Linked DNA regions of Homo sapiens. The protein of the gene in region 2 purifies or fractionates together with the protein of the main gene of each other region. This does not show direct contact. Each region holds a gene or a part of one and is shown on either strand. Other genes may lie near its edges.

Region 1 (4,698 bases), on a different chromosome or scaffold from region 2:
CTTCATTACTTTCTAAAATATATTTTTTTAATCTTAATGATAGAATACACCAGGCCCTGAGGGTTTTGGATAAGAATCTATAGTCTTACACAAAGCCAGGTAGTTATAAGAAGAAATCAGTCCAGTGAACCTCCCTACCCCATCAAAAAAAGAAAAAAATATTTGTGATGCATTTACACTGAAAAAGTCAAATTATAAGGTACTTCTGTAATTCTAGAAGTCTGGGTTTATATGAGATATGTCTTTCTCAAAAAGTGAAGATGATGATTATTGCTGGCATGTATGGGAGAAATTGATTTAATCTTTCAACATCTCATAAGTAATATCAGAGAGATAAAATCAATAATGTAAACAGTATTATCTAGCATGTTAACCGTATGGTTAAATGCAACAGATTTGACTATTTCCTATATTAAGATACTCTTAATGCCTATAACTCAATAAATATTAAAAATGAATGTTACATCTATAATAAATAAATGGGAAAATTAGCTTTACTATACAAAGAAAAAGGAATCTCAAAAATCAATCTAAACCATTAGTCTGAGCAACTAATAAGTCAGTAAAGACTATCAGTAAATCAATACCATTCAAGTAAAATTTTATAAACTAATAGTTCAGCATTCTGCAAAACAAAATTGACATCACTTTTTTGAAGCTAATCTGATCATCCTGATTAAATATGGCACGTTACTTCATTACCCTCTTCCTAACACACTACATTACTGAAAGAGACCATGTTTTAAAGAATATATTGCCAATTCTTAACTCTATAATAATGATAAAAAATAGTTACTTCAAAAATCACTTGTTTAAAAAGATACACATTTGAGACTCAAGGATCCCTGCATAGCCATAATAATGTCACAAACATTAAGATATAAAATATGAAACTGCATTTTTATTTAATAAGATCCAATAAACCTTAAGGTTTAATGCCAGCTTGAAAAATAATGCATTTAAGATATCACAAGAACAAAAACAAATTTCAATTAAAATTATACTAGATTTTTGTTTCTGAAGCTCACAAATAATAAATGTGTACATATCAGAATCTAAGCCTCTTTTTCTTTTTTTTTTATTGAGACAGAGTCTCTCTGCTGCTCAGGCTGGAGTGCAGTGGCTCAATCTCAGCTCACTGCAACCTCTGTCTCCTAGGTTCAAGCGATTCTCCTGCCTCAGCCTCCCGAGTAGCTGGCATTACAGGAATGCAATGCCACGCCCAGCTAATTTTTTGTATTTTTAGTAGCACACAGGGTTTCACCATGTTGGTCAGGCTGGTCTCGAACTCCTGACCTTAGGTGATCCGCCCGCTTCAGCCTCCCAAAGTGCTGGGATTACAGGACTGAGCCACCACGCTCAGCCTAAGCCTCTTTTTCACTACCCTCTAAGCGATCTACCACAGTGATGAGGGGCTAAAGAGCAGTGCAATTTGATTACAATAATGGAAATTAGATTTATTAATTAACAATTTTTCCTTAGCATGTTGGTTCCATAATTATTAAGAGTATGGACTTACTTAGAAATGAGCTTTCATTTTAAGAATTTCATCTTTGACCTTCTCTATTAGTCTGAGCAGTATGACACTATACGTATTTTATTTAACTAACCTACCTTGAGCTATTACTTTTTAAAAGGCTATATACATGAATGTGTATTGTCAACTGTAAAGCCCCACAGTATTTAATTATATCATGATGTCTTTGAGGTTGAACGCATATAGAAATGTCAACTAGTTTGGAGATACTGAGTTGGACTTTAGAAAAGAGGTAGGTCTTTGGACGAGCACGGTGGCTCACGCCTGTAATCCCAGTACTTTGGAGGGCCAAGGCAGGCAGGTCACGGGGTCAAGAGATCGAGACCATCCTGGCCAACATGGTGAAACCCCATCTCTACTAAAAATACAAAAATTAGCCAGGCATAGTGGCACGCGCCTGTAGTCCTAGCTACTCAGGGGGCTGAGGCAGGAGAATCACTTGAACCCAGGAGACGGAGGTTGCAGTGAGCAGAGATGGCGCCACTGCACTCCAGCCTGGCAACAGAGCAAGACTCTGTCTCAAAAAAAAAAAAAAAAAAAAAAAAGGAGGTAGGGCTTTAGGGCTTTAAGATAGATATTTGGCAATCATCCTAAACTTAGACGTTTATTAACTGCAATTATTAGAACAGATAAAATTTCTAAGGAGTGACCAATTGCCCCAATAACATGGAATACATTGCTTTCCATCTAGCATGCACTGAATATGTATTAAATGACTTAACATTTTAAAAACGGAAAATTAATCTCCTGTATTACTATGGTTATATGTGATTAAGATACTTCTGGTTTTGAAAATGAGTACATTAAATGTTTATTAGTTATTTTGTAGAACGTATGAACCCATGAAACTCTGCAGGACGCAGTCCCAACTGCCTAGTCCACTGCCTCTAGACATGTTTGGTTTTTACTTACCATAAGAGAACTGGTTATTACTAACCATTCAAACCGATGAAAATACCCAGAAGTCTCCTTCAGGGTATCTTCAAATGTGTCAACTTCTAATTCAATTGTCTTTTTCCTCCCACAACCAGCATTCATTTTCTTATACAACTGAATAATTTTCTACACCAATTCCTACAATTGAAACAGCACCGTCTTCTACCATTTCCCTTTGCAAGATATATACTAAATTTCAGCTAACATAAAAGTTACAGACTTTTATGAAATAGCCTTGATTCTTAACCACATTTATATCATCATTTATTTAGGTAAAACATTCCAAATTCCAAGTAATTACTTCAAAATGGAATTGTCACACAAAGCCCATTTGTTATTTGACTTGTTCAGTTTTTATGTTTTGTTTAACCTATTTCATAGAGTACTGCTCATGGGACCAGGAAGGTTATTAGTGAGCTAGGATTAAACTTCCATCCACAGATGAACAGCCAAGGTAATGTGGAAAAAATGCTAGATTTCAAATCATGACAGGGTCAAAGTAGATGGAGGTGGGAGAGATAGTACGGAAGTATGAAGTAGAACCAATGCAATAGCCAACTATGCAAAATCAGACACAGAGTGCTACATGACAGACAGAAAGAAAAATGGGTAGTAAAAAGATATTTATATTTTCAGGCATCAAGTTCAAAGGGAGCAAGAGTATGAGGATATGGGATTTGCAGAAACAACTTGTCAAGGGAAATGTTTTGGTCCCTCTCTGTCCCCTATCACTTGGAACTTGAAGAAAGTACATTAAATTGAAAAGCCTAGTTCTGTGCTAGTTCTGTGGCAAGTCTTGTGCTATTCACTATCCTCTCCTACTTCTTTTCAATTACTTATTGTTAGCTCTCAACTTATAGGATTTAGTCTGTTTTTCTCTACTTTTACCCTGTCCTGTATCATGACCCTTTAAGGCCATAATCCTTTATCTTACTGATTTTCTATTCTTTTGCACTAAAAATAGTCTTGCTTCCTATAAACCAAATGCAATATTGTACGCTTCTAAGATGGAGGGACCTCCTGTGAAGTTACAGTGAACTAACATTCAAGTTAGTTATGTTCAGGAACATAACCGAAGACAATAGCTTTCTTCCCAGCCTTCCTGCCTCCATCACTATTAAATTTTCCTCTGAAGCTTTCAAACCTGAACACATGATTTTTTTGAGACTTTTTTCTTAAATTATACTTTAAGTTCTGGGATACATGTGCAGAAAGTGCAGATTTGTTACATAGGTATACACACGCCATGGTGTTTTGCTGCACCCATCAACCCGTCATCTACATACCCGTCATCTACATACCCATCATCTACATAAGTATTTCTCCTAATGCTATCCCTTCCCTAACCCCCAACCCCGACAGGCCCTGGTGTGTGATGTTCCCCTCGCTGTGTCCATGTGAACACGATTTTTAAAAATTCATTGGTTTATTCTGAGTATTCATCATCATACAGTTGTGAAAATAGTTACTATACATAAAGGCTAAAAGAATCGATGGAAATTGACTGTAAATAACATGGATTTCTAAACAGGTTCATTAGAATTTTTCTTTTGATAGAATTCATAGTGTCCAGAGAATATTAGGTTGTAGTATGTGCTCAAGCACAAAAGTATTCTTCAGGTATAGATTAAAAACATAATTAAAGCATTTTCATGTGAGCACTTTAAATATGTTTTTAATTTGTACTTAAGGAATATTTTAAATGAATTACAAACATCTGGCTACTATCTCTTTACAAAACAAATGTTCTGCATCTCAGAGAATTACAAAAACTGGGTTTATGGGCCCAGATACTGTTTTCAATGCAAAGATGGGTAAAATTAGTACTTACCTTTGATACTAAATCAATATTAAATCTCCTGCCTTCTTTAATAATTTGTGAGTAAGTAATTCTGTTTTTCTTTGGTTGCTCTGTGGTATCTTCTGCTATAGGCACATTTTCACTCATGTCTTCTGCTGAAGTTGATGGCACACAAGTTTTATCATCACAATGGTTTTCTTTTTCCCCTGTCACTTCAGCACCATTTACTTCTAGCGCATTCTCTGGATCGCTGCTTGGAGTTTGTTCTGTGAGCATTTCACAGCTCATAGTGCTTAATGACTCATCCTCCGTAGGCAGGAAGGCAGAATCTGCAGCTTCTGTGGAGTTTGCAGATGTCACAAGAGCATGATTTTTCTGCAGTGCACCAGCTTCTTCGACATCTTCATGCAAATCCTGACTAATA
Region 2 (8,427 bases):
TATGTTCCTTTGAGTGTATACCCAATAATGGGATTGCTGGAGCAAATGATAATTCTGTTTTTAGCTCTTTGAGGAATCACACCACTTTCCACAAGGGATGAACTAATTTACACTCCCACCAGCAGTGTATAAGTGTTGTCTTTTCTCTGCAACTTTGCCAGCATATGTTATTTTTTGACTTTTTAATAATAGCCCTTCTGACTGGTGTGAGATAGTATCTCATTGTGGTTTTGATTTACATTTCTCTCATGATTAGTGATGTTGAGCATTTTTTCATATGCTTTTTGGCCACAGATATATCTTCTTTTGAAATGTGTCTGTTCATGTCCTTTGCCCTCTTCTTAATGGGGTTGTTTCTATTAAGAACAAATCCCATCTCAAAAAAAAAAAAAAAAAACCTTCCAGCCAGCCAGATTCCAGTGACTCACACCTGTAATCCCGGCACTTTGGGAGGCCAAAGATCACTTGAGCCCAGGAATTCAAGACCAGCCTGGGCAACATAGTGAAGCCCCATCTTTACCAAAAATTTAAAAAAATCAGCCAAGTACGGTGGCATGTACCTGCAGTCCCCGCTGCTCAGGAGGTAAGGCAGGAGGATTGCTTGAGCCCAGGAGTTGGAGGCTCTAGTAAGCCATGATCACACCATTGCTCTCCAGCCTGGGCAAGAGAATGAGACCCTGTCTCTTAAAAACAAAAAAAGAGTCTCCTCACACCTCCAGTCAGCTTCCTTCTATGAACTCTTTTAGCACCTTACCTGAACCTTTAGATGATTTCTATCTCATTGCATACATACCTGTCTTACCTCCCTTACTAAGTTTTATTCAGGGCAGGATCCATGTCTGGTAATTCCATAGACTTCTTTCAGTGTCTAGTTCAGTTCTTTTTTTTTTTTTTTCTTTTGAGACAAAGTCTTGCTCTGTTGCCCAGGCTGGAGTGCAGTGGCATGGTCTCAGCTCACTGCAACCTCCGCCTTCAGGTTTCAAGCAATTCTCCTGCCTCAGCGTCCCAAGTAGCTGGGATTACAGGCGCCTGCCACCCCACCCCGCTAATTTTTTGTATTTTAGTAGAGACGGGGTTTCACCATGTTGGCCAGGCTGGTCTCAAACTCCTGACCTCGTGATCTGCCGCCTCGGCCTCCCAAAGCGCTGGGATTACAGGCGTGAGCCACCGTGTCCGGCCTAGTTCAGTTCTTAAACCACATAGTAAGTACTCAGGGAAAAGTGTTGAATATATAGAGGCAGAGAGATCAGTTGGTAGGGTACTCTGGAAATCCAGAATTGAGGTGATAAGGGAAAATAAAGGGGTGATAGAAGAGGTATTTTGAAGATAAAGCCAAAGTCTTCAGTAACTGGCTGTTGGTGATGAGAAAGAAGAGGACTAGATGAGTGAGGTTGTGAGTCTGGGTGACAGGAGGTAGGTAGTGGAGCTAAGGGGGACTACGTGGAAGATTGAATTTGGACAGGCTCTGTAACATTATGATTTAGTCATGTGTTTATTGAGATGATCCTATATTCAAATGGAAATACTGATTGGCAGCTACAAATACCGGATTGGCACACAGGAGAAATAATTATGCACATGAAGTTGAAGTTTGGAAGCACGGATAGAACAAAATGTAGCTAACATGCCTAGAGAGAATAGTAGAAATTTTGTTAAATTTTTTTATGGCATGATGAAGATGACATTCAGTGAATGCTGTGTAAATATAAAATATAAATTGGGTTACTAATTATTGTTCTGTGTTGATCTTCATTAAAAGTAAATTAATGTTTATAAGTCAAAAAATATTTTATATGAAGTCACCTTATACCCTACCTTAAAACAGAATCAAATTGATACTTTATTTCTTAAAATGTGGTATTGGTGGTTGGAGAGATACCAAACTGGTTCTCTTGATTTGATTTGATTTGCATTGAAATTCAGTGAATGAGAATATGCGCAGTTCAGGTATCCTAAGAATGCTGAAGAATCTTGTGATCCCTTAGCTCAGAAACTTTTGGGCAGTTTCTGGTCTGAAAAAGACTTTGAATTGCTGGGGTTTGGTCCTGGGGCTGGCATGGTGTAAGTAATATACATTTTCACAGACCCAAGCTTTCCTACTATCTGAAGGATCCCAGGAACCAGGTCAGAATTCCTGTTGTTTTTCTAGCCTGATTTCAGAAGCCTATGATTCTCTTCTGTCACTTCTTACGAAGACGAAGAAGGCAGCATTGGTGTGTATATTCAGAGGTGGTGAGAAGAGAATTACTTACTTCTCTGGAATCAGTGGTCAAGATCTCTTGCTTTGGAGACTGTGTGAGGACTCTAAGCAAATTAGTTTAAGCAGAAAGGGAATTTATTTTTTCATATAACTAAAAAGCCTAGAAGTAAATTTCTCTGTCTGCCAGTTCCAACTGCAGCTCTACATGCCCATTCCTAAACTATGGTAGTGACAGGGAGTGTGGGGGTGCGAACCTCTGATTGGTCAGACGTAGGTCACATGCCCTCCCTGGGAGCCAGTGGTTCATGTGAATGGAAAGCAGGGGAGGGCCGATTCCCAAGGAAAATAGGGTGCTATTAATAGAAGGGAGAATGAGGGTTAGGCTGGAGAAAACAACATGCATTCTCTACAGAATCAGGTAGTCCACGTTTAAATTCTGGCCTTAAGACTTACTCGTTTTGTGGCCTTGGGTGAATTACTTAAACCTCAGTTTCCTCATCTGAAGATTGGGTAATTATTACATAGGGTTGCATATATTAAATAAGGGCATGTAAAGGACTTAGCAGAGTTCCTGGAGTATACATGGAATGTGCTAAGCCCCAAATCAATATTAATAGTTTAAGAGTAAATGCTCATTCCTTCAGGAGAGAGATGGTAGTGGGGAAAAAAAACAGGCAGTGAAAGAATAGGGAAAGAGGATGGATAACTAAGATTACTGTTCCAAATTGTGTGTATTTTTTCCTCTAAGGTGATAACTAATGCTTTCTCTCACTGCTTGCTCTCTTCCTTATCACCATTATTATTCTGTAATTAAATCCTTTATTTAAAAAAAATTTTGACCAGGCATGGTGGCTCACGCCTGTCATCGCTTGAACCTGGGAGGCAGAGGTTGCAATGAGCTGACTTCGTGCCACTGCACTCCAGCCTGGGTGACAGAGCAAGCCTCCATCTCAAAAAAAAAAAAATTTCATATATACGTATAATTCCTTTATATAAAACTTCATGAATCTCTAGTTTAAATTCCAATATCAAGTTTTAACAAAAATGGCAACCTAGCTACTGCTAAATACTAATAGTAGATTCTTGTTGTTGATGACAGCTCTTTTTTTTTTTTTTTTTTTTGACGGAGTCTCGCTCTGTCGCCCAGGTTGGAGTGCAGTGGCACAATCTGGGCTCACTGCAAGCTCCGCCTCCCGGGTTCACGCCATTCTCCTGCCTCAGCCTGCCGAGTAGCTGGGACTACAGGTGCCTGCCACCACGCCCGGCTAACTTTTTGTATTTTTAGTAGAGATGGGGTTTCACTGTGTTAGCCAGGATGGTCTCGATCTCCTGACCTCATGATCCGCCTGCCTCGGCCTCCCAAAGTGCTGGGATTACAGGCGTGAGCCACCGCGCCCGGCCATGACAGCTCTTTTGGTAGTTTTATTATCCAAAATGAGAAATGATCTGACTTTAAATTGATTTAATACTCTTTTTGCTTGACCTAAAATGTTAAAGGTTTTAATCCAAATTTTCCATCCCTGATTAACTATTAAATTTCCTTTTCCCCTATTCTTTCAAAGAACACATTTTTATTATTTCATGTAAAAGACCATCTATATAAGAACTACATAAGAGCTTCTGTTAACAATTTAAGTTGTAAAACAACATCATAACTGGTATTAGTGACATCTCAAGAGAACTCTTTGCTTTTTGTATGTGGAGTAGAAATGTGTGTGTCTGGTGTACAGAATCAAATGGCAAATCTTTGAAATAAATTTTAGCTTTCTGGAGTCTCTCTCAACCTCTACTGATTCTGAGTGCTGCCATTTCATGTATTGGTCTGTGTTCACTTAAACCCTGTTAAAATTTTAAAATAAATAAATTTTAGCTTCCTAAGAAGACAAGTAACAAATTTTTGTGATTATTTGAAAGGAATACTGCCTTTAAAATGAAGAATTTGGGCCAGGTGCCATGGCTCATGCATGTAATCTCAGCACTTTGGGAGGCCGATCAGTTGAGCCGAGGAATTCGAGACCAGCCTGGGTAACATGGAGAAATCCCATCTCTACAAAAAACACAAAAATTAACTGGGTGTGGTGACACACTCCTGTAGTCGCAGCTACTCAGGAGGCTGAAGTGGGAGGATTACTTGAGCATGGGAGGTGGAGGTTGCAGTGAGCCAAGATTGTGCCACTGTACCCCAACCTGGCAAGAGTGAGACCCTGTCATAAAAGATAATAATAATTTCTTTTTGAGATGGAGTCTCTGTCGCCCAGGTTGGAGTGCAATGGTGCGATGTCAGCTAACCGCAACCTCTGCCTCCCAGGTTCAAGCCTATTAAAGGCGTGTGCCACCACACCTGGCTAATTTTTCTGTATTTTTAGTAGAGACGGGGTTTCACCATGTTGGCCAGGCTGGTCTTGAACTCCTGACCTCAAGTGATCCACCCACCTCGGCCTCCCAAAGTGCTGTGATGACAGGTGTGAGCCACCACCCCTGGCCAAGTATATATTATGTTATCTTTATAATGTTTAAAATGGCAATAAGATTGCTGTGAGCACATATTAGCCATTTTTCCTAAGATATTTAAGTATTAAATTGGGAAAAATTTCTCTGAAAATATTTCCTAATTTAACATTTACCAGATGAAAGCGTCTCACTTCCTTGGGTCCAAAAGTATCAGTTTCTCTTCTTTTTTAAACATCATGAACCATTCCACTCATAGCTAAGCCTCAAGAGTTTTCTAGGCTTTGCTTTTCGCCTAGTGTCTGTCTGTCTGTCTCCTTCAAAGTTTTCTCTAGCCTTTTATGGTCAACAGTTTTTAATCAGTTGTCCTGTCGTGTATTGGCTGGGTCTCTCACTGCTCCTTTCCTGTCTCCTTGCCTTCTCATCTCAGTGTGCAGGCCTGGAAGGCAGCAGGCAGCAGTAGCCCTAAGCCTTCCCATCATTTAGTTATTCCATGAGAGAAATTTTGAAGCTTCTTTTTAGATATTCCTTTGTAAATGCCTCATTATTAGTTACGTTTATGGCTCTACAGTAAAGTGTAGAGTTATTTCAGGCTGGGCATGATGGCTTTTGCCTATAATCCCAAAGCTTTGGAAGGCCAAGGTGGGAGGATCACTTGACCCCAGGAGTTTGGGACCAGCCTGGGCAACATAGTGTGACCACCCCCCCACTGTCTCTACAAAAAGTAAAAACTTAGCTGGGTCTGGTGACACGCGCCTGTGGTCCCAGGTACTCAGGAGGCTGAGGCAGGAAGATTGAGCCTGGTAGGTGGAGGCTGCAATGATCCATGATTGTGCCACTGCATTCCAGCCTGGAGGGGCTGAGTGAGACCCCGTCTCAAAAAATAAAAATAAAAAAGGGGTAATTTCATACCTCTGTGTTCTGGAAGACTTGATATGATTAGAAAGCATAAAATTTTGAACGGGATTGATGGGAAGAGGAATACTGTTTTTTTTTTTTTTTTTTTTTTTTTTATACTTTAAGTTCTAGGGTATTCAATGTGCAGGTTTGTTACATATGTATACATGTGCCATGTTGGTGTGCTGCACCCATTAACTCATCATTTACATTAGGTATTTCTTCTAATGCTATCCCTCCCTTCCCCTAACCCCATGACAGGCCCTGGTGTGTGATGTTCTCCACCCTGTGTCCAAGTGTTCTCATTGTTCAATTCCCACCTATGGGTGAGAACATGCGGTGTTTGGTTTTCTGTCCTTGTGATAGTTTGCTGAGAATGATGGTTTCCAGCTTCATCCGTGTCGATACAAAGGACATGAACTCATCCTTTTTTATGGCTGCATAGTATTCCATGGTGTATATGTGCCACATTTTCTTAATACAGTCTATCATTGTTGGACATTTGGGTTGGTTCCAAGTCTTTGCTGTTGTGAATAGTGCTGTAATAAACATACGTGCGCATGTGTCTTTATAGTCTCATGATTTATAATCCTTTGGGTATATACCCAGTAATGAGATCGCTGGGTCAAATGGTATTTCTAGTTCTAGATCCTTGAGGAATCGCCACACTGTCTTCCACAATGGTTGAAGTAGTTTACAGTCCCACCAACAGTGTAAAAGTGTTCCTATTTCTCCACATCCTCTCCAGCACCTGTTGTTTCCTGACTTTTTAGTGATCGCCATTCTAACTGGTGTGAGATGGTATCTCATTGTGGTTTTGATTTGCATTTCTCTGATGGCCAGTGATGATGAGCATTTTTTCATGTGTCTGTTGGCTGCATAAATGTCTTCTTTTGAGAAGTGTCTGTTCATGTCCTTTGCTCACTTTTTGATGGGGTTGTTTGATTTTTTCTTGTAAATTTGTTTAAGTTCTTTGTAGATTCTGGATATTAGCCCTTTGTCAGATGGGTAGATTGCAAAAATTTTCTCTCATTCTGTAGGTTGCCTGTTCACTCTGATGGTAGTTTGTTTTGCTGTGCAGAAGCTCTTTAGTTTAATTAGATTCCATTTGTCTATTTTGGCTTTTGTTGCCATTGCTTTTGGTGTTTTAGACATGGAGTCCTTGCCCATGCCTATGTCCTGAATGGTATTGCCTACGTTTTCTTCTAGCGTTTTTATGGTTTTAGGTCTAACATTTAAGTCTTTAATCCATCTTGAATTAATTTTTGTATAAGGTGTAAGGAAGGGATCCAGTTTCAGCTTTCTACATATGGCTGGCCAGTTTTCCCAGCACCATTTATTAAATAGGGAATGGGAAGAGGAATGTTGTTTAGTCAGTCTCATCTAAAAACAAAGGGTTTTCTTAGGATTAAACTTCTTCTTCTTCTTTTTTTTTTTTTTTTGTTTTTTTGGAGACAAGGTCTCACTCTGTTGCCCAGGCTGGAGTGCAGTGGCACGATTATGGCTCACTGCAGCCTTGATCTCCTGGGCTTAAGCGATCCTCCCACCTCAGCCTCCCAAGTAACTGGAAGCACAGGTGCATGCCACCACTCCCAGCTCACTTTTTTTTTTTTAAGAGACGAGGTCTCACTGGTAGGAACAAAGTAGAGACAAGGTCTCACTGGTAGGAACAAAGTAGAGACAAGGTCTCACTGTGTTGCCCAAGCTGGTAGAGACAAGGTCTCTTTTGGTAGAGACAGGGTCTCACTGTGCTGTCCAAGCTGGTTTCAAACTCCTGAGCTCAAGTAATCCTCTCACCTCAGGCTCCCTAAGTGCTGGGATTACAGGTGTGAGTCATTGCACCCGGCCTGGGGTTAACATTTATCATTACCGCTTACATTTGTGGAGGACATCCACAGTTCTTTGAGGGCGGGTCTAAATTCTGCGTAATCATCTTTTTTTAATTTTGTTTTTATAAATGACATGCATGTTTGTTAAGGAAAATAGAAAAGTAGAAATAAAGGGAGAAATTACCTTGGAGACAACCATTGCTAATATTTTGGTATATTTCCTTTTCGTGTGCTTTTTATTTTTTATCTTGTGAATATAATTTGCTTAAAACATTATAAGTCATTTTTCATTGATGAAGTGATGCTTGAACATCTGAGTTACAGAAAATGTCATTAGAAGAGAAAAAAATCAGCTCTAGTTCCCTTGGATAGCTTTTATATAGGTCATCCAATTTATTACCAAAATATCTTTCTAAATGCTAAAGATAGAATTTCAAGGGTCTTTTCTTTTCTTTTTTCTTTTTTTTTTTTGAGACATAGTCTTGTTCTGTCACCCAGGCTGGAGTGCAGTGGCATGATCTCAGCTCACTGCAACCTCTGCCTCCTGGGTTCAAGCGATTCTCGTGCCTCAGACTCCCAAGTAGCTGGGACTACAGGTGCATGCCACCATGCCCTGCTAATTTTTTGTATCTTTGGTAGAGACGGGGTTTTGCCCTGTTGGCCAGGCTGGTCTTGAACTCCTGAGCTCAGATAATCTGCCCACCTCGGCCTCCCAAAGTGCTGGGATTACAGGCGTGAGCCACCATGCCTGGCCTCAGATATATTTTATTTGCAGATATTTTCTCCCATTCTGTGAGTTGTCTCTTCACTTTGATAGTGTCCTTAGAAGCACAAACTTTTTTTTTTTTTTTTTTTTTTTTTGAGGCAGGGTCTTGCTCTGTCACCCAGACTAGAGTGCAGTGACATGATCTCAGCTCACTGCAGCCTCTGTCTCCCAGGCTCAAGTGATTTTCCCACCTCAACCTCCCAAGTAGCTGGGACTATGGGCACCTGCCACCACACCTGGCTAATTTTTGTATTATTAGTAGAGATGGGGTTTCACCATGTTGGCCA
Region 3 (6,670 bases), about 46 Mb from region 2:
CTTAATAATAAATACATTTTTGAAAAGTCTTTTTACTTACTCTTTATATTTAGTGTTTAATGCACTACAAGTTGACTATTACTGTTTATCTATATAGCATCAAATAGTAAATATAGATCTTATGCTGGAAATGTCAACCTCCCTGGCAGCTGTAACGCCCATCATTGAAAGGGAAAGCGGAGGACACCATTATGTTAATATGACTTTACCTGTCGATGCAGTTATATCTGTTGCTCCAGAAGAAACATGGGGAAAGTAAGTATTTTTATAGTACCACTGCCACATTTGAATGAGGGCCCTTCCCCAAACCCATGTTTGTATATCCTGTAGGTATACCTAAGGTGTGATTTTCTCCTTGTTTATTATTAACCTAAGAGCCATCTATTAATTAAATGGTTATTTGGAGGAAGTAGGGTAGCATGCTAAAACCTGGAGGATTTCCCTTTATCCACAAAGAGCAAATACACAGTTTCTTTTATAATGTATAATTCAGACTTCCTTTAGCAAACCTGGTCCAATCAAGTTTTTTACTATACTAAGGATATATTAGCTCTGTACTTTTCTTTATTGTAGTCACTATAACTTTTGTTAATACACTTATATATTTCCCCCCACAGAGTTCGTAAACTCCTGGTTGATGCAATTCATAATCAACTAACTGACATGGAAAAATGTATTTTGAAATATATGAAAGGAACATCTATTGTGGTCCCTGAACCACTGCACTTTTTATTACCAGGGAAAAAAAATCTTGTAACAATTTCATATCCTTCAGGAATACCAGATGGCCAGCTGCAGGCCTATAGGAAGGTAAAACCAGTTCATCTATTCTTAGAAAAAACAATAATGACTATCATTCATTTTGTATTTAATTATATATTTCCACTAAATGGAAGGTATTTTGTGATTTAACTTAAAAGTGTGGAATTTAGACTATTCATTTTACACATTATTTAATTTCTGTTCTCATGAAACTTTAAGTAGTATTAATGACAAAATGTTATGTTGAACCTATATGTAACATTTTAATTTTAAATGCTCGGTGTGGTTCATATATTCTGTGAAATTTTAATATTTTTCCATAATGAAATATAGAAATGGTGCTTACATGCCTAAAGTTGCTGGTATTAACAGATTTCTATAACTTTCCGATTTGTGAAAGAGACAAGATTACAGTTAGGGAAGGAAAATGATAACTTATGCTAATTCTGAATAGGATTTATGGTAATACTCCACAAGTAAGGTTATTTGGGCTTTATTAGAGGAATTTTGGAGAAAACATGACCAGCATTCAAAGTAATGAGATTTACTCATGACTGGTTTTGGAGTGCATCTTTTTGATATGTGGACTCGCTTAGAACCTATCAAATTAGACCGTGGAGCATCTTCCTAATTTCTGTCCTTAGGGAGAGCGAGAATACCCTGACCCTCTGTATGTGGAGGTGACTTGGTTTGTAGAAGCAATAGCTACAGGAGCTGATCTTTTAAAACCACTGGAGTACAAGATATGATAAAGAACATGTCAAACTTTTTAAAATACCTATTACATGTTTTTATATAGTTGGGAAAATAACACATTTTAAACATATATGTGTATTTGTTTTCCTGCCATATTGGTTGGCTTTAGACCACTAACTTCTACTCTGTAGTTTAATCACTACCACTTACAATATAAAATATTTGTAAGGCACTCGACACAATTTTGCAAAATACTTTGATATAATTATTGTTAATTATAATTTACTCATTTACAAGGCTATTTCAAAACCAGTCTTTAGCCTGGATGTATTTTAACAGACTATGTTGTAATAAATAATTATTTAAAAATTAGTTCTCTTACTCTAACAATTTATATTCATTTTTCTCTGTTCCCTTCCAGTTTCTACCCAGATACAGACGTAAACGAAAATAAATCTTACTTGGTTTTAGTTCAGTTTTCACCATCTTTGATGTTAGTGAATTAAACCATAAGTGTTTGGAAACTTTTATAACCTATATATAATTTTCCATGTTTAATAACATCTTTATTTATTGACTAGGAATCTAAATCACCAACATTTTTTCTTTTTCTGTTGATTCTGATTTATTTTAGGAGTTACATGATCTTTTCAATCTGCCTCACGACAGACCCTATTTCAAAAGGTCTAATGCTTATCACTTTCCAGATGAGCCATACAAAGATGGTTACATTAGAAATCCACATACTTACCTTAATCCACCTAACATGGAGACTGGTATGGTGAGTTTAACTAATTATTTATGGGAGTCACTGGATCAGTAATGTTATTAGTTGTTTTTTGTTGGTACCCAGTAGGAGACTTGATTCATTATGTATTCATTCCTAAAACATGATTTATCACCCATCTCTGTTAACAGACATTGCTTAAGATAGCAGTAATTAAAAATGGTCTAGAAAAGTTAGTAATAGGTAGATATACCACATTTATCTTACTAAAATTCTCTTATTTCTTTAAAGGCTTGTCCCATTTTTTTTCATTCTGAACCTGAGAAATCATGCTAATTAAGGGCATAGTCTACCCAAACCACACTGTAGGATAAATCTTTTTTTGTTTTTTTGAGACAGAGTCTCGCTCTGTCACTCAGGCTGTAGTGCAATGGTGTGATCTCAGCTCACTGCAACCTCCGCCTCCTGGGTTCAAGCAATTCTCCTGCCTCAGTCTCCTGAGCAGCTGGGGTTACAGGCACCTGCCACCACACCTGGCTAATTTTTGTATTTTTAGTAGAGACAGGGTTTCACCATGTTGGCCAGTAGCTAGGGTTACAGGCACCTGCCACCACACCTGGCTAGTTTTTGTATTTTTAGTAGAGACAGGATTTCACCATGTTGGCCAGGCTGGTCGTGAACTCCTGACCTCAAGTGATCCGCCATGTAGGCCTCCCAAAGTGCTGGGATTACAGGCATGATTCACCATGCCCAGCCACTGTAGGATAAGTCTAATGAGGAACTAGACTTATTTTCCATGTAACATATACCCGGTTGCCAGGGATAGATCCTCCCTAAAGGTAGCTCAAATAAGAGTGAATTGGCGGAGGGTGGTGGAAGGGTTACTTTAAGGATACATGGAGGCCAGTGAGAAAGGACCTTATAAGGCATCCAAGATTAGGAATACCAATAGAGCTGGGCCTCTTAGAAACAGCAGCCCTGTGACTAGCAGGTGTCTTCAGTCTCTCTCAAGGACTCCGTGGATACCTTGGTGGCATTGCTATTGCTTTCTGTGTATGCTTGTGATCCTAACTGGCCTGTTCTTAACTTTTACTCTGTCTGCTCCACCTCATACCCTCTGTATCCTCACTGTTTCAGCTTGTGTGTCACTTTTTCCTGTTCTTCCTCAGCTGCCCAGTGTATGCCTCATTCCAACTGCATTTCCTGCTCCTGGCTGCCTGGCTAACTCTGCACCTCTCAGTTCAGATTCCCAAGAGAAAGAAAACTTGGCTATCGTATGGTGGCATTTATTAATACCTTCTGAGCGTCCAGGACTTTTGAGGAAATCTTAAGAATTAAAAAAATGCATATACGATACAGTACGTACCCTAGATGAGTTAGGGGCCCACTTGTGGTCTTGGTCATTAGAGTGTACTCAGGGCAGCAGATCATCTGCAAAAGCTGTGGGCCAACCAGCTTCCATAGAAAGTTCCTCACAAAAAGAATAGTTCCTTAGAAGAACCTGGACACACAGAAGGTATTGAATGAGTACTGATTGCTTTTTGACAATAAAATAGGTTCATTATATCTGTATTACAAGGTCGTAAGAAAAATATATACTTTACATATTTATCATGTAATATTTGATATGTACATATAACATATGCAAATTGTAAAGCACAGTGGGGAAATGAATACCAGGGAGCTCCTCCCTAATTTAAGAAGCAAAACTTTACCAGTCTGTGCTCTTTCCCTACCCACTCCTCTGCCTCCTCGACACAGTTCCAGGAGGAACTATTATGGGTTTTGTGTTCATCATTTCCTTCCTTTTTAAAAAGTAGTTTCAGCGTATATGTTACATATCAATCTCAGCAATGTCGCTTTTAGTATTGCATAGTTCTGAGTTTTATAAATATGGTATCATTCTGTACGTAGTCTCTGCAGCTTGCTTTTTCACTCAATATTACATATCAAACATCTCTGGTATTTTGTCTAACCATAGTTAATTATCTTTATGATTTTTTCCAAGTTTTTTTGCTGTTTAGACAATGAACATTCCTATACCTCTCGATACATATGTGCAACAGTTGTTAACATTTTGCTATATCTGCTTCATTTCTCCCTCTTTTTTCCCCCTCTGAACCATTTCAAGGAAAATTATAGATATATTATTTACCCTTAAATACTTTGGCACAAATCTCTCAACAATATAGATGTGCATTCATGAAATAAACTCGGTTTGGTTATGACTCATTATTTTTTATTCCCCTCTGGATTCCATTTGCTAATATTTTACGATTTTTGCATCTATGTTCGTGAATGATACTGGCTTATAATTTTCTTCTCTCATACTGTTCTTATTTTGTTTTTTTATTAGTGATATACTGGTTTACTAAATTAGTTAGGTTAATGTTCCTTTTTTAGTTTTTTAGAGAAGTTTATATAAGAGTGGTATGATCTTTCCTTGGTCATTTGGTAAAACTTGCCTGTAAAACAATTTTGGCGTAGCATTTTCTTTGTGAGAAGATTTTTAGTAACCAATTTAGTTTTGGTAACAGCTTTAGGACTTTTTGATTTTTATAAGTTATTTACCTAGGTTTTAATATATCTTGTAGTCATAATATTTTCTTTTTCATTCTTCATATCATTTTTATGCCTTGTGTCTTTTAAAAAAAAAAAAACTTTTGGCTTTGTTGGCCCCCTCTATTATAACTTCTGTATTTGATTTTATTAATTTTTGCTCTTTACTTTCTTTTTTTTTGCTCTTTCTTTGATTTATTGTCTTTCTTCTAACTTCTTAAGTTGGACATGTTAGCTTATTGCTAATATTTCTTTCTTTCTTTTTTTTTTTTTTTGAGATGGAGTCTTGCTCTGTTGCCCAGGCTGGAGTGCAGTGGCACAATCTTGGCTCACTGCAACCTCCGCCTCCTGGGTTCCAGCGATTATCCTCCCTCAGCCTCCCAAGTAGCTGGGATTACAGGAGGGTGCTACCACGCCTAGCTCATTTTTGTATTTTTTAGTAGAGATGGGGTTTCACCGTATTGGCCAGGCTGGTCTCAAACTCCTGACCTCGTGATCTGCCTGCCTCAGCCTCCCAAAGTGCTGGGATTACAGGCGTGAGCCACTGCGCCCGGCCTAATCTTTCTTTTTTTTGAGATGGAGTCTTGCTCGGTTGCCCAGGCTAGAGTGCAGTGGCATGATCTCAGCTCACTGCAACCTCTGCCTCCCTGGTTCAGGCAATTCTCCTGCCTCAGCCTCCCCAGTAGCTAGGATTACTGGCAATAGCCATACGCCTGGCTAATTTTTGTATTTTTAGTAGAGACAGGGTTTCATCATGCTGGCCAGGCTGGTCTCGAACTCCTGACTTTAGGTGATCTACCCACTCGGCCTCCCAAAGTGCTGGGATTACAGGCATGAGCCACCGTGCCTGGACAGCTTTCTTATTTTCTAATGTAAGCTTTTAAATTTCAAGCAAAGCACTGCTTTTAGTGTATCTTATAGGTTTAATTTGAAGGATTTTAGTTTTGTTCACTTCTAAGTATTTTTATATTTTTCTATTATGGTTTTTCTTTTGTCCATGTATTATTTAGAAGTGTTTGTTAATGTCCAAATATGTCAGAATTTATTTTTCTTTTTTGCTTTTTTTTTCTTCTTGTTTTAACTGGTTTCTGACTCTTGCCTCCTGGTCAGAAAGAATTCTAAGTGAAACTAACTCTGAAATTTATTGAAACTTGTATTTGTTCCCTAAAAAATAATAACATATTTGATGGCTTAAAACTACAAAAATGTATTGTCTCAGTTCTGGAGTTCTGAAAGTAGTATCACTGGGCTGACATCACAATGTCAGCAGGACCACCTTCCCTCCATAGGCTCTTGGGGAGAATCCATTCCTTAATCTGATGGCTGCCAGCATCCTTTGGTTTGTGGCCCCATCATTCCGATCTCTGCCTCCTCAGTCACATTACCTTCTCCTCCTATGCCCCTCTCTTTTAAGAATATATGTGATTGCATTTAGGGCACACTAGGATCCAGGATAACCTCCCCATCTTAAGATCCTTAATCACGTCTATGAATACCTTTGCTTTCCTTTTTTCTTTTACTTTTTGGCACAGAGGGTGCATTCACAAGTTCCAGGGATTAGGACATACATACCTTTTGGGAGCCACTTTTCAGCCTGTCACAATGGTCAAGTTATAAATTTTTCTATCTGTGCTTGGGCAGAATATATATTCTCTAATTGTTGGGTGAGGGTTGGTTCTATCTTGTCCCTATCTCCTCTCACTTAATTTTTTAAAAATATCATCAGTTTGGAGCCAGGCATGGTGGTGTGCAACTGTAATCCCAGCTACTCAGGAGGCTGAGGCAGGAGGATCACTTGAGCCTAGAAGTTCAAGACCAACCTGAGCAACATAGTGTGACCCAATCTCAAAAAAATAAAAACAAAAACCCAGTTCTTTAATAAAAAAAGACATATACATTCTTAGCACTATAAGTAAGAATTTATAT
Region 4 (8,427 bases), on a different chromosome or scaffold from region 2:
GTCTGGGTGGCCTGGCTTTTGGAATTTTAAGAAGATTTCCAAGTGATTGTAATGTGCAGAAAAGTTTGGGAGTAATGAGTTTAAAATGATAGGCATTTTCTCTTAGATAAATTTAACTTTTGGCTGGGCACAGTGGATCACACCTGTAATCCCAGCACTTTGGGAGGCTGAGGCGGGCGGATCACTTGAGGTCAAGAGTTCATGACCAGCCTGGCCAACATGGTGAAACACCCTCTCTATTAAAAATACAAAAATTAATGATGTGGTGGCGCATACCCTGTAATCCCAGCCACTTGGGAGACTGCGGCAGGAGAATCGCTTGAACCCAGGAGGCAGAGGGTGCAGTGAGCCGAGATCACACCACTGTACTCCAGCCTGGGCGACAGAGTGATATCTTATCTAAAAAAAAAAAAAAAAAAAAAAAAAGAAACTTTACTATTTAAACCCTTTCAATGAATGCTTTTTCATTCATTAACATGTGTATGGAAGCCATAGCGCTAAAGCCAAAGATAAAGCTCCTTTATTGTTTTTATTCTCCTCAATAAAGCGCATTTGTGACAGGATTAGACTCATGGACAAACTTGTGGAAGCAGCAGTGGTCAAAATCAAAAGGTCAGCCAAGTAGCAAGGACTAGATAGGTTTATTGTCCCTATGTCCCTAGGAAGGCAAGGGGCTCAGCCCAGCAAGATAAGGCTAGGCATTATTGTGGCCACAGTGTTCTCAGAGGAGAATGTCTGCTCATTGCCGTGGCTCCAGGACCATCCTGTGCATAGAGATGACAACATAGCCCAGGGTTGGGCCAAACGGGAGGGCACTGTCTTGGTTTGCCACTGAGTCCCATCCCAGCTGAGCCAGGGAGGGCCTGAGAAGGGCGTGAATCACACATGCAGCTGTGTGGGTGGGGCTTTAAAGAACACTGCGGAACATGTGCGAATGACACTTTGGCCCAAGAAGTCTCAGGACTAAGAATAAGTAGTTGTTTAGGTTATATTTACTAAAGTTAGTTATTAAAAGTTATTCACTAAACCCAGTAATAAATCCTTTTTTTTTTTTTTTTTTTTGAGACTGAGTTTTGCCCTGTTGCCCAGCTGGAGTGCAGTGGCACGATCTTGGCTCACCACTGCAGCCTCCGCCTCCCAGTTTCAAGCGATTCTCCTGCCTCAGCCTCCTGAGTAGCTGGGATTACAGGTGTGCGCCACCACTCCCAGCTAATTTTTGTATTTTTAGTAGAGACGGGGTTTCACCATGTTGGTCAGGCTGGTCTCAAACTCCTGACCTTGTGATCCGCCTGCCTTGGCCTCCGAAAGTGCTGGGATTACAGGCTTGAGCCACCACGCCCGGCCCTTTTTTTTTTTTTAAATTATTTATTTTATTTATTTATTAATTTATTTATTTTGAGATGGAGTTTCGCTCTTGTTACCCAGGCTGGAGTGCAATGGCACGATCTCGGCTCACAGCAACCTCCGCCTCCCGGGTTCAAGCCATTCTCCTGCCTCAGCCTCCGGAGTAGCTGGGATTACAGGCATGCGCCACCACGCCCAGCTAATTTTGTATTTTTAGTAGAGACGGGGTTTCTCCATGTTGGTCAGTCTGGTCTCGAACTCCGGACCTCAGGTGATCTGCCCACCTTGGCCTCCCAAAGTGCTGGGATTATAGGTGTGAGCCATTGCGCTGGCCTTTTTTTTTTTTTTTTTTTTTTTTTTTAAAAAGCAGAGTCTCGCTCTGTCACCCAGGCTGGAGTGCAGTGGCACCATCTTGGCTCACTGTAGCCTCCACCTCCTGGGTTCAAGCGATTCTCCTGCCTCAGCCTCCTGAGTAGCTGAGATTACAGGCGCCTGCCACCACAACCAGATAATTTTTGTATTTTTAGTAGAGATGGGGTTTCGCCATGTTGGCCAGGCTGGTCCCAAACTCCTGACCTCAGGTGATCTGCCCACCTTGGCCTCCCAAAGTGTTGGGATTACAGGTTACAGGTGTGAGCCACTGCGCCCAGCCCCAGTAGCAAATCCTTTACTATTTGGCCACTCTAAAAATATTTTCAATTAAAATCAAGTAGCAAATGGATGTCTGTTATCAACGTTATTGTTCTTTGTGGTGTTAGTAAGTGTGGGAAAAACAGGAAAATGAAATTACAAAGATTGGAAAAGAACAGATAAAAAACTGCAATAGGATTGTATTTCTAGAAAATCCAAGAGATTTTAAAAATAGTATTAGAATTTTTAAAATAATTTGATAAGATGGCTGGATATTATAAAATATATAAAAATTCCTATCTTTCGTCTATATTGGCAGTGAGTACTTAGAAATGGAAGGAGGAGAAATATTTCATTCAGAGTAGTGCAAAACCTGCAAAATACATAGAGTAAATTTATTTATTTATTTATTTTTTGAGACAGGGTCTCACTCTGTCACCCAGGCTGGAGTACAGTGGTGTGATCATGGCCCACTGCATCAGCCTTGATCTCCTGAGTTCAGGGAATCCTCCCACCTCAGCCTCCCTACTAGCTGGGACCACAGGCGTGTAGCACCATGCCTGGCTAATTTTCTTATTTTTTTGTAGAGACATGGTCTTGCTATGTTGCCCAGGCTGGTCTTAAACTCCTGGGCTCAAGCACCCCTTCCGCCTCGGCCTCCCAAAGAGCTGGGATTACAGGTGTGAGCCACCACACCCAGGCAGAAGTAAATTTAATGAGAAAGGGGCAGGACCTTTATGGAGAAGTCTAGAAGGTCTTACTGAAGGTTATAAAGCAAGTTCTGAACAAATGGAAAGATATGTCGTGTTCTAACAATTAACATACTAATTTCATTTCCAATTAGAATTGCATTAAAGTTTTTTTTTAATTGGATGAAATCTCAGCTTTGTTTAGTAGAATAAATGCTGAAGAATAGCCAAAGAAGTATTAAAAAAAAAACAGTGATACTTGGGAGGGCATTTGCCTCACCACATATCAGAAGATCCTATAACACTACTTTTAGCCAATCAATATGGTGTTGCTATAGGACCAAACAAATAGATTAGTGGACCAGAACACAGAATCCAGAAAAAGATCTCAGGATATAAGGCGATTTAATATATGACCTCAGGTGCTGTTCCAGTGGAAAAAAATCTATTATTTATTTGTAATTAATTGTATGTTACTTAAATAATTCTCAAGAGAATTAGACACTGAAGGCAGATAGGACAAGAGTATGTCATTAAGAAGGTTGGGAAGTGTTGAGATTGGACAAAGACCTATTCCTCTTTTTTTTGAGAGGGTTTCACCCTTGTCGCCCAGGCTTGAGAGCATTGGCGTGATCTTGGCTCACTGCAACCTCCATCTCCTGAGTTCAAGTGATTCTTCTGCCTCAGCCTCCCAAGTAGCTGGGATTACAGGCGCCGGCCACCATGCCCAGCTAATTTTTGTATTTTTAGTAGAGATGAGGTTTTACCATGTTGGCCAGGGTGGTCTCAAACTTCTGATCTCAGGTGATCCACCCGCCTCAGCCTCCCAAAGTGCTGGGATTACAGGCGTGAGCCACTGCACCTGGCCTCCTTTTTTTTTTAATTGACAGATGAAATTGTATGTAGTTGTGTATGACATGATGTTTTGAAGTATATATATGTTGTGGAATGACTAAATCTAGCTAATTAGCATAGCATGGTCTCACATAATTAGGATTTCTGTGGTTTGAACGCTTTATATCTCTTAGCATTTTTCAGGAATATAATACATTGTTATGAACCATAATCACCATGTTGTACAAGAGATGGATCTTGCAAAGGGAGGACTCTATTATTGAATGAGTAGTGCTGGGGTAGCCAGCTATGTGGAAGAAGGTAAAATTGGACCCCTTGCCTAGATGTAAAAAATAAATTCCAGGTGAATTCAGTACTTAAACACAAAAGGTAAAAATAGAAAACTCTTGTAAGGAAATATAGGAGGACATTCTAGGAATGGAGAAGACCCAATTAAGACTGGAAACTGGCTGGGCATGGTGGCTCAAGCCTGTAATCCCAGCACTCTGGGAGGCCAAGGTGGGTGGATCACCTGAGGTCTGGAGTTCAAGACCAGCCTGGCCAACATGGCAAAACCCTGTCTCTACTAAAAATACAAAAATTAGCCGGGCATGGTGATGCACACCTGTAATCCCAGCTACTCAAGAGCCTGAGGCAGGAGAATCGCTCCAACCCAGGAGGCAGAGGTTGCAGTGAGCCAAGATCGCACCACTGCACTCTAGCCTGGGCAACAGAGTGAGACTCTGTCTAAAAAAAAAAAAAAAAAGTATATGTTCAAGGATGCTTATTGCAAGCATTGTTTATAGTGGTAAAAAACCAAAAGCCAAAAAAATACTCATTAACAGAGGCTGGGTGAATGAATCTTGCAGTAAATATTATGCAGCTACAAAAAAATAATGCATCAGTGCTATGCAAGTTAACTTTCATGAGTAGTTGATTGAAACAAGCAAAATAAGGAGAAGTGTCAGTTTTGTAAAACAAATGGACTCAATAAAAAATATCATAGAGGTATACATGTGATTGAGTTATAACTGATTGTAATGATTATGTGAGCATGGAGGAAATATACAGATGACATAATGGTTTGTTGAATGTTAAAATGGATTTCTTGGGGATGGAAGAATGGAGTGGGATGAAAAGAGGGGCCTGGGTGCAGTGACTCACGCCTGTAATCCCAGCACTTTGGGAGGCGGAGGAGGGCAGATCACTTGAGGTCAGGAGTTCGAGACCACCCTGGCCAACATGGTGAAACCCCCTCTCTACTAAAAATACAAAAATTAGCCGGGCATCGTGGCAGGTGCCTGTAATCCCGGCTACTCAGGAGGCTGAGGCAGGGGAATTGCTTGAATCTGGGAGGTGGAGGTTGCAGTGAGCCAAGATCACGCCATCGCACTCCAGCCTGGGTGACAGAGCAAGACTCCATCTCAAAGAAAAAAAAAAGAGGGCAGCTATGTAGAATGTATTAATAATAATAATAAAAAAGACTATTGATACTGTCTACTGCCCTCCCTGGTGGATATGAAACAGTCATATGTAAAGTTACGTGTGTGTATATGTATCAAGAAATAGCATAAAACAGGGAGATGTTTCCAAGAGCAGCAGTGTATGATGGTCACTCTGACAGGGCTGAACTGTTTTAAGTACAGCAGGGGGTGAGTGTAGAAGAGCTCTCAGATGGGGACTGTTCCCCAGAGTGAAGTCAGGTTCTGAAGGAGGCTGGAGGTTTCAGCAGAGGGCAAGGTCTCCTGGCAGCCTCATGGCTGGATAGGGAAGTTGGGGAAAGGCGAGTCTCAGCCTTTGGATGGCATCCAAGGCTGGAATCCAGGAAATAGAGATGAGGGTCCTAGGGAGAAAGGAGCCTGGGCAGCTGAATCTAGTCACGGTGCTTCAATCGAGGAATTGCCTGGAGGCTCAACGGTGCCCTATGGCAAAGGCTCACTATGTTCTCCTCGCCCAAGATCAGAACCAGGTCCCCGGGGATTGCCCACAGGTAGGTGGAGATGACAGGTAGGTAGAACTGGAGTAAGGGCTGAGAACAGACAGTGCCGGAATATATGTTTTTGTGCTCTGTCACAACATTGTCCAGAGAATATAACTGCAGGGGGAAGTATTTTGCAAACCGGACCTGAAGGCTCTTGAGTTTCTGTTGGTGAACAGTTTGCTGAAACAGTGACTTTTCTTTCCTCTCCCTCCCTTCCCTGTTCCCCAGCTGGATGTGTGGAATCTGGTGAAAATGTAATGAATACCACTTATGTTTTCTCCAGGAAGAATCTTAAAAGGTATGCAGTCAAGGAAATGTTTGAAATGTTTACATTTTTTTTAGACGGAGTTTCGCTCTTGTTGCCCAGGCTGGAGTGCAATGGTGCGATCTCTGCTCACTGCAACCTCTGCCTCCCGGGTTCAAGTGATTCTCCTGCCTCAGCCTCTTGAGTAGGTGGGATTACAGGTGCCCGCCACCACTCCTAGTTAATTTTTGTATTTTTAGTAGAGATGGGGTTGCACCATGTTGGCCAGGTTGGTTTCAAACTGCTGACCTCAAGTGGTCCGCTTGCCTCGGCCTCCCAAAGTGCTGGGAATACAGGCATGAGTCATTGCACCCGGCTTGTATTTTTTTTTTTTTTTTTTTTTTAGTAGAGATGGGGTTTCGTCATGTTGGCCAGGCTGGTCTTGAACTCCTGACCTCAGGTGATCCGCCTGCCTCCTCCTCCCAAAGTGCTGGGTTTATAGGTGTGAGCCACCGCGCCCTGCCAAAATGTTTACCTTTTATTTTTGCTTTTGCTTAGTCACAGTGCCTTTTCCTAACACTGCAATTAATCCATTAGGCCCATCGCTCATCTTCCATGTCCTGGAAAAGCCACTCTTGCTGTTCGCTGCTGTCCGGTCTACTTTGAACTGAGGCCAGTGGTGGAAACAGGTATCCTCAGAGCCTCAGGGGTGTGTTATGTTTTCTCTCCGAAACAGGTCACCAGAGTGGGGTGGAGATTTGGATTCTGTCTTATGGGGAAAGGTGGGTATCTGGGTTTGGTTCAGTTCAGTTATTTTAAAAATATTTTATTTTTACATTTAAATCTATTTATTTATTTATTTTGAGACCAGGTTATCAGCCTGGTTAATTTTTGTATTTTTGGTAGCGACAGCGTTTCACCATGTTGCCAAGGCTGGTCTTGAACTCCTGGACTCAAGTGATCCACCTGCCTCGGCCTCCCAAAATGCTGGGATTACAGGTGTGAGCCCCTGTGCCCGGCCTGGTTTAGTTATTTTTAAAAGCTGGAGCAAAGACTGGGGTTATCAAAATACATGTCAGTTTTTTTTTTTTTTTCTTTCTTCAGGATATATTTTCTTGCTTAAGGCACTTTAAAAGGAATGGACGTACTCCTTTTGTTTGTCTATGTCTCTCATTATCAATTTTCTTTTTCTTTTTTTTTTTTTTGAGATGGGGTCTTGCTCTGTCGCCCAGGCTGGAGTGCAGTGGTGCAATCTTGGCTCACTGCAAACCCTGCCTCCCAGGTTCAAGGGATTCTCCCTCCTATCCTCCAGAGTAGCTGGGATTACAGGCGCATGCCACCACACCCAGCTAATTTTTGTATTTTTAGTAGAGATGGGATTTTGCCATGTTGGCCAGGCTGGTCTCGAACTCCTGACCTCAGGTGATCCACCCACCTTGGCCTCCCAAAGTACTGGGATTATAGGCGTGAGCCATCATGCCCAGCCATTTTCTTTGTTTTCTTGTGCTTGGGGTTCATTGAACTTCGTAGATCTATCCGTTTATAGTTTTTATTACATTTGGGAAGTTTCAGCCATTTTTCCTTCAAATGTTATTTCTGTTATTCCCTTCTCTTATTCAAATACTCCCATTACACATGTATTATATTAGGTCCTTTGAAATTAGTTCCTGGCCTTTGATACTACTTACTTTTTTTGTTTTTTTCTTCTTCCAGTGTTTGATTTTGGAAGTCTCTATAGCTGTGTTTTGAGTTTGCTAACCCTTTCTTCTGCATGCTCTGCCCTTGGTCCCATCCAGTGTGTTTTTCTTTGTTGTGGTTCTCATCTCTAGAGATTCACTTTGGGTTTTCCTTATATATTCTGTGCCTCTCCATGCTCCATTTTTCCTCTTGCTGCTTTCTTTTTTTTTTTTTTCTTGCTCTGTTGCCCAGGCTGGGGTGCAGTGGTATAATCTCGGCTCGTTGCAGCCTTCGTCTCCCAGGTTCAAGTGAATCTCCCACCTCAGCCTCCCAAGTAGCCAGGATTACAGGTGTGCGCCACCACACCCAGCTACTTTTTTTATTTTTAGTAGAGGCAGGGTTTTGCCATGTTGGCCAGTCTGGTTTCGAACTCCTGACCTCAGGTGATCTGCCCGCCTCAGTTTCCTCTTGCTTCTTAAGCATATAGAGTGCAGTTATAATAGCTCTTTTAATGTCCTTGTATACAGGTTGGTTTTGATTTTTTTCTCCTCATTGTGGGTCATATCTTCCTGTTTTTGTTTGCCTGGTACTTTTTGATTAGATACTAGACACTGACTTTTACTTTAGTGGATGCTGGATGTATTTTTATTCTTATAAATATTCTTTTTTTTTTTTTTTGTGACAGAGTCTTCCTCTGCCACTAAGGCTGGAGTACAGTGGTGCAATCTGAGCTCACTGCAACCTCCGCCTCCTGGGTTCAAGCGATTCTCCTGTCTCAGCCTCCTGAGTAGTTGGTACTACAGGCACACACCCCCACGCCTGGCTAATTTTTGTATTTTTGATAGAGACGGGGTTTTGCCATGTTGCTTAGGCAGGTCTCAAACTCCTGAGCTCAAGTGATCCACCCGGCTCGGCCTCCCAAAGTGCTGGGATTCTAGGCGTGAGCCATTGCACCTGGTCAGAAGCCTTGTTTCTGTGGTTTTACTTTGTCTCTGTCCCCAACCCCCAGGTGTGGAGCTGATGAGTCT

What was found.
Region 1: the proteins of RAB33B (region 2) and CHM purify together in Homo sapiens (affinity purification with mass spectrometry; one large-scale study listed by BioGRID and IntAct). This does not show direct contact.
Region 3: the proteins of RAB33B (region 2) and UFSP2 purify together in Homo sapiens (affinity purification with mass spectrometry; one large-scale study listed by BioGRID and IntAct). This does not show direct contact.
Region 4: the proteins of RAB33B (region 2) and CHAF1B purify together in Homo sapiens (affinity purification with mass spectrometry; one large-scale study listed by BioGRID and IntAct). This does not show direct contact.

What each region holds. Positions count from the first base shown.
Region 1 is NC_000023.11:85,959,361-85,964,058, forward strand, and holds part of CHM (rab proteins geranylgeranyltransferase component A 1), read right to left. Parts: intron 4,693-4,698; coding exon 4,305-4,692; intron 1-4,304. UniProt on the Homo sapiens protein: Substrate-binding subunit of the Rab geranylgeranyltransferase (GGTase) complex.
Region 2 is NC_000004.12:139,458,752-139,467,178, forward strand, and holds part of RAB33B (ras-related protein Rab-33B), read left to right. Parts: intron 1-8,427. UniProt on the Homo sapiens protein: The small GTPases Rab are key regulators of intracellular membrane trafficking, from the formation of transport vesicles to their fusion with membranes.
Region 3 is NC_000004.12:185,409,295-185,415,964, reverse strand, and holds part of UFSP2 (ufm1-specific protease 2), read left to right. Parts: intron 1-97; coding exon 98-255; intron 256-617; coding exon 618-810; intron 811-2,092; coding exon 2,093-2,239; intron 2,240-3,551; exon of another isoform or gene 3,552-6,670. UniProt on the Homo sapiens protein: Thiol-dependent isopeptidase that specifically cleaves UFM1, a ubiquitin-like modifier protein, from conjugated proteins, such as CD274/PD-L1, CYB5R3, DDRGK1, MRE11, RPL26/uL24, TRIP4 and RPL26/uL24.
Region 4 is NC_000021.9:36,403,055-36,411,481, forward strand, and holds part of CHAF1B (chromatin assembly factor 1 subunit B), read left to right. Parts: intron 1-5,706; coding exon 5,707-5,776; intron 5,777-6,319; coding exon 6,320-6,411; intron 6,412-8,408; coding exon 8,409-8,427. UniProt on the Homo sapiens protein: Acts as a component of the histone chaperone complex chromatin assembly factor 1 (CAF-1), which assembles histone octamers onto DNA during replication and repair.